Linked DNA regions of Homo sapiens: region 2 is linked to region 1. Evidence: fine-mapped expression QTL. A gene starts in region 1. The other region holds a variant in brackets. All regions are shown on one strand. Distances are from middle to middle.

Evidence for each region. PIP is the estimated chance that this variant, and not a neighbour inherited with it, causes the effect. A credible set is the group of variants that fine-mapping cannot tell apart.
Region 2: its variant is the best candidate, but not a certain one, in a credible set for the expression of ABCC11 in nasal epithelium (TOPMed, PIP 0.72).

What each region holds. Positions count from the first base shown.
Region 1 is chr16:48,246,004-48,248,924 of GRCh38, forward strand. ABCC11 (ATP binding cassette subfamily C member 11) reads right to left here and starts at 1,536. Exons shown (of 30, transcript NM_001370497.1): 1 at 1,311-1,536. The region is part of intron 1 of LONP2 (lon peptidase 2, peroxisomal); the gene reads left to right.
Region 2 is chr16:48,184,940-48,187,860 of GRCh38, forward strand. ABCC11 (ATP binding cassette subfamily C member 11) reads right to left here. Exons shown (of 30, transcript NM_001370497.1): 21 at 2,262-2,488; 22 at 2,014-2,151. Among named protein-coding and RNA genes, the nearest start is that of ABCC12, 30 kb to the left of the region's middle. The variant C/A (reference allele first, on the strand shown) is at 1,652.

The DNA of each region.
Region 1 (2,921 bases):
CGGAGGGTTGGACATGTCTTATTTTTCCTCAAAATCTTGTGACTATGTACATTTTTTTAGGAGAATCCTTTGCTTTCTTCAGATTCTCAAAGGAGACTGGTACCTCCCCCCACCCCCGTTAAAAGAAAGCAAAACAAAGCAACAAAGACCAACAAACCTTCCACAGCAGCCCAGTATTCATTTATATTGTAAAAGCCTTGATTTTCTCAAGCATGGAAAATATTTTGGCTCCCATCTGACCTGCTTTGGTTATTGCCTGAGTGGAATTGGTCACATTCCAAGTTTCAGTACTCTTTGATAAATTGTATTGGATTCTAGTTTCCCAACATACGACTCTGCTCCTTCTGCTTACTTTTCCCAAATTATTTTGCCTTCTGTGCCCAGGCACACTTAGTTCCCTGTCTAGGCAAGAGTGGTCATTATTAGACTTCATTTTCTTTCTACTGTGCATATGTATTGATTAGCCATGGGCACATTGTGAACTTGAAAAGTCGATTTAGTCACATTTTAAGTTTCACTATTTGTTGGTATTATTCTGGCAAGATTTTGGAAGGTTTTTATTATTTATTCATTTGTGTATTTTTTGAGACAGAGTCTCATTCTGTCTCCTCCGCTGAAGTGCAGTGGCGTGATCGTAGCCCACCGCAACCTTGATTGAACTCCTGGGCTCAAGTGATCGTCCTGCCTCAGCTTCTGGAGTGGCTGGGACTATAGGCGTGCACCACTACACCCAGCTAATTTTTAAATTTTTTGTAGAAATGGGGTCTCACTATGTTGCTTAGGCTGGTCTCAAACTCCTGGACTCAAGCTATCCCCTGCTTTGGCCTCTGGAGTAGCTGGGACTATAGGCAAGCGCCACCATACCCTTCAGGTTTTTAATTTATTTTATGAAAATCCCTCCAAAGCAACAATCCTCAATTCTCCTGCTTGAAAGTAATCACTAATAATCAGGTACTGTGTGATCTGATCCTTGATGTTCATATTATTGCCTTTAACTGAGTAGCAATGTTAAAATTTAATCATTTAAATTAGAAAACATATATTGAAAAGTCTTCATAGAAGTCCGGCATTATAAGAACTCATCAGACCATCTAGTTATCCTAGAAGTATTGTTTGCTACTTAAAAAGCCTATGTGGAAAGATTGTACCATATTCCTTGGTAATAGTTTCCAATGTCTTTTTTTCTCTAATAGGGCCTTTAAAACACTCTACTTAAAAAAAAAAAAAAAAAAAGGCTTTAACAATACCAATACTGAGTAATCCATAGCATTAGCCTGTTTCCACGCACAAGTCTGTCCTTCCCCAGTTACCTGCTTTTCTGTATGGTAGCCCAGAGGCCAGAAGAGGGGCTCTGTTCCTTTCTCTTGTTTCCTTTGCGCTATCCAGGTGACGCTGGCACAGCCTTCAAAGAGCAGCAGAAGTAATTTGCTCCCAGCGTTCTTTGCCACACAGAGTGGCAGGATTAGATGTTGACTTACCTCTGCCACTTCCTTGGTGGTTTTGAGTAGTACAGTCCCTTTCTGCACGTTAGTGTGCAGGCATGTTGCCTGCAGGAGCCTTTTTAAAGGAGGAGCTTTGGACTTGTCCTGCAGTATAGAACTTGGCTGGCATGCTGACCCAGGGCACCCTGCATTTTTCTGCTTAGTAGAACTGCATTTTTAGTGCTTCCTGAGTGACCCATTGTTTTCTTAGTGAAAAGGGGTCATAATTTAGTACTACCTGTACAATATCCTTTCAAGCATTTCAAGATGGTCATCCAGCTTTCTTCCAAATTTACACTTTTCAGGGTACATGGCTTCATTTCCTCATAGTGCCGACTTCTCAGTCTCCCTCACCAGGCTGGTGTCAAACTTGTGAGCTCAAGTGATCCTCCTGCCTCTGTCTCCCAAAGTGTTAGGATTACAGGCGTGAGCCACCATGCCTGGCCTATGTTTATAATTCTTGTAGGTAGAAGTGGTACCTATTGTCCATTGTAATGAGAAAAAAGTAAAATTTGTCTTAAAATATAATTAAGGAACTCAATTTATTAAATTTAAATTTATCCTTTAAATTTTAAATTTAAATTTATTTCTTAAATTTATTTCTATTACATTTTCTTGTAACCATGTACACCTAAGTTGTTCTACTTTAATTTTTTTGAGACAGGGTCTCACTCTGTCACCCATGCTGGTGCAGTGGTGCCATCTCAGCTCACTGCAACCTTTGCCTCCCAGGTTCAAGTGATCCTCTCACCTCAGCCTCCTGAGTGTCTGGGATTACAGGCATGTGCCACAATGCCTAGCTATTTTTTTTTTTTTTTTTTGGTGGAGACGGGGTTTTGCCATGTTGCGCAAACTGGTTTCGAACTCCTGAGCCCAAGTGATCCACTTGCCTCGGCCTCCCAAAGTGCTGGGATTATAGGTGTGAGCCACCATGCCATGTTCTACCTTTTTGAATCTCATTTACTCACTTGTAATAAGGAAATAATACTACCTTCTTCATGGGGTGAAGGGAGGTATAAAATGAAGTATACATATGAAAGCCTTTTGAAACTGCAAAGCATTCTAAACCTATATCCAAATGGGTAGTTTTAAATGTAGATTTTCACAAAAGGGGATTAAAGAGAGGAGTGGGGAGGCCCCATATTATTCCAACACGGGCTGAACTGAACTAACATCATTGCAGGAAGGTCTTGGAAGATTAAAGATTCCAAGAAAAATTAAGGGCTTTGAGTAAAAAAATTTTTTAAAAGTGGCTGGGCCTGGTGGCACGTGCCTGTACTCCCATCTACTCATGATGCTGAGGCGGAGGATTACTTGAGCCCAGGTGATCGAAGCTGCAGTGAGCTATAATCGTACCACTGCACTCCAGCCTGGGTGACAGAGCAAGATTCTGTCTATAGGAAAAAAAAAAAAAAAAAAAGCAAGTGCTGGGCATATAGG
Region 2 (2,921 bases), 61 kb before region 1:
AATGCCAGGACGTGTGAGTGAGTGTGGGAGTGATTCCTTTCAGTGGGATGATGGGATATCTGAAACTACCATTCTGCTACTAGGAGGGGAGCCTGGAGCCACCAGAGGGTCTCTGGGAGCTTAAAGGTAAAATAACACCATGGAAGGCAGAGCAGTAAAACCGAGACACCCGGGGAACATTAGCTGAGTCTCTGGATTAAGCCTCACTTTAAGCAAGTCCTCCTCCCCAGCCTTTTGCTATGAAAATTTTTATAAGTACCAAGAGATTAAAAGCTTGATTTAATGAACATCTGTATACCCTCTAATGAAAATTTTTTAAAGTACCAAGAAATTAAAAAGTTTATTCCGTGAACATCTGTATACCCTCTACCTAATTTAGCAATTGTTAGTATTTTGCCATATTTAAGTCATATTTTTAAGCTAGTTTGCATTAGTTTTTTCTGTCACTTCCAACCAAGAAACCTACCAATTTCCAATTTTCACATACCACCATCACAGTTTTCCATGTCAATCACAACCTGTACTGTTATTTGATTAGTATTATTATTTTACTTGCTTTGTTTGAGAATGTATATTAAAAGAAACTTTAATCACAACCTTAAATTATATAAATAATGGGTTTGATATGTTAGTTGCATTTTTTCTAAAGTACATTCAAATAAACCTTTGATTATTGAAATTAAATATTCATTTACTCATCAACTAAAACCATCTTACCATCTGAGTGGGCTATCACCCCAGCAGAGTGGCCCTTCTGACTCACTCTGTCCATACCCTCTGAACCTTTGCATAAGACATTCCAAATTCTGTCCACCTTACCTTTCTATACTGATTGAGTCACCTCCACCTTGAGGCCTTCCCAGATTAAACACAACAGACCCTGGTCACTCTGTGGCCCCTGTGCTCAAGCCACCTTGCTATCCTTCAAACCTACTTCCCCCATCTCATGGTCTTTGCATTTACTGTCCCCTCTGCCTGGAGAGCTCCTACCCACATATTTCCATAGCTCAACCCACACTTCATCTCAGGGTCCTTTTCTCTGACACCTTCCCCAACAACAGCTCCAATCCCTCCAGACTCTCTTCATCTGCTTATCTTAGTATATACCTTGGGGCAGGGTTCTCAGTGTGGGCTGAATGAATGCACCGCTCCAGGATCCCCTCAGTCCTAGAGTCTGCACAGACCTTGAGTGGTCTATAATGCCACTGAGAGAGCAGGTGCCACAATTAATCCAATATTCCAGCTAACTGAGCACATACCGTCTCCCAAATGTGTGCCCAAGTCTTACCCAGGCTTCAAGGCCAGCTCAGATGCCACCTCCTCCCGAAAGCCTTATCTGATTCCCCCAGGCCACCTCCTTCCCCTCTGAATTCCCAAGCAGTTTATCTGCCCCTCTCTTATGCTATCTACCTTCTTCAATCACGTATAATTACAAAAACATGTGCCTGTTTCTCCCTTTTTCCACCAGACTATGAACTTCTTGTAGGTGAAGACCGTGCTTGATTATTCTCTACAAACAGATAAGTTCGTGTTACACCATTAAACCTCAACAACAATCACAGGACTTGTTTGCTTGTTTGTTTCAACATTTAGGGGGCAAATCTATGGCATGAGTAGTGAAGGAAGTTCTATTATTTAGAAAGCTATTGTT[C/A]CTCATTATTTTGTTAAAGATAGATATTTGTTTGGAAGTGAAAGAAATAACATAATGCAAGATGTGTTTGCACAGTAATGCACCTTATCATTAAATGTATGTATACATATGTCCATATATATATACACAATATATACAAGGTCTTTAAAGTTTACAAACATTTTTCCTATCATTTACATTTTTCATTCTTATAAATGAAAGAATGGTTCAGCAGGTTCTGGAGGCTCAGAGAAATACGTCCATCGAACAATGTGCTCTCTGATGCTTTTGAAGATGATGCCACTCCCAGACGCTCCATTCTTTCCCTGCTCCCCACCACCCCTGTGGTTCCATCATTCTCAAATGGCAGCAGAAGGACTCACTGGCTGATGAAGTCTTCAGTTTTTCCATAGACATGGATGGAGCTCAGGCCTTGCAGAGAATTGAGGATGTGGGAGAATAAAGGAGACCGGCTATAGTTCTCCAGTCTCTTGAACACACCGATGGCCTTCTTGAACATCCTGCATGGACAGTGGAGGTAAGGGACCTGGACCGTCCACCTCTGGGACCATCTAGTCTGGGTTGGTCCCAGCCTTGCTCCCCAAGTCACAAGCAAAAAGAACCTACTCACATATAATAAATGAAGCAAATAACCATGATTATGGCTCCCATTAACAGGATATATGGAGACAGCACACTGACAATCAACAGGACGGCGATCACCATTAAGGACAGGACCAGGAACTGCTCTGAAAAGATGGGCAAGAGCTGGTCCAGCTGTTCCAAGTCCCCTGCGAAGCAGTTCAAAAGCCGGCCTATTGGGATGGTGTCAAAGAAACTCATGGGGCAGCGGAAAACCTGCAGGGACAAAATCAACGCAGACCATGAGAGAAGCTGCAGGCCCTGCTCAAGATTGGATGAAGATGCCTGTTACCCTTGACTCTAAAGAGCCACGGATCCCAGGGGTCTCCAGGGCAGGCAATGTAGAGCAATGATTTAAAAGCATGGATGGGCTCCACGGCTACCTGACTCCTCCACCTACTGCTGTCTGACCTCGGGCAAGTACTGAGTTCCTCTGAGTCTCAAGGTCCTCGTTAGCGAAATGGGAATGAAAACGATGCTTCACAGAGTTGTAGTGAGGATCACACAACTCCTCAAATATACTAAACACTGAAGTGTATAATTAAAAGGCTGAATGTATGGTATATGAATTATATCCTGTAAAGCTATTAGAGAGAGAGAGAATACATTAAAAATGCTCAGAGCAGTGCCTGCCCCTGAGGTAGGAGGT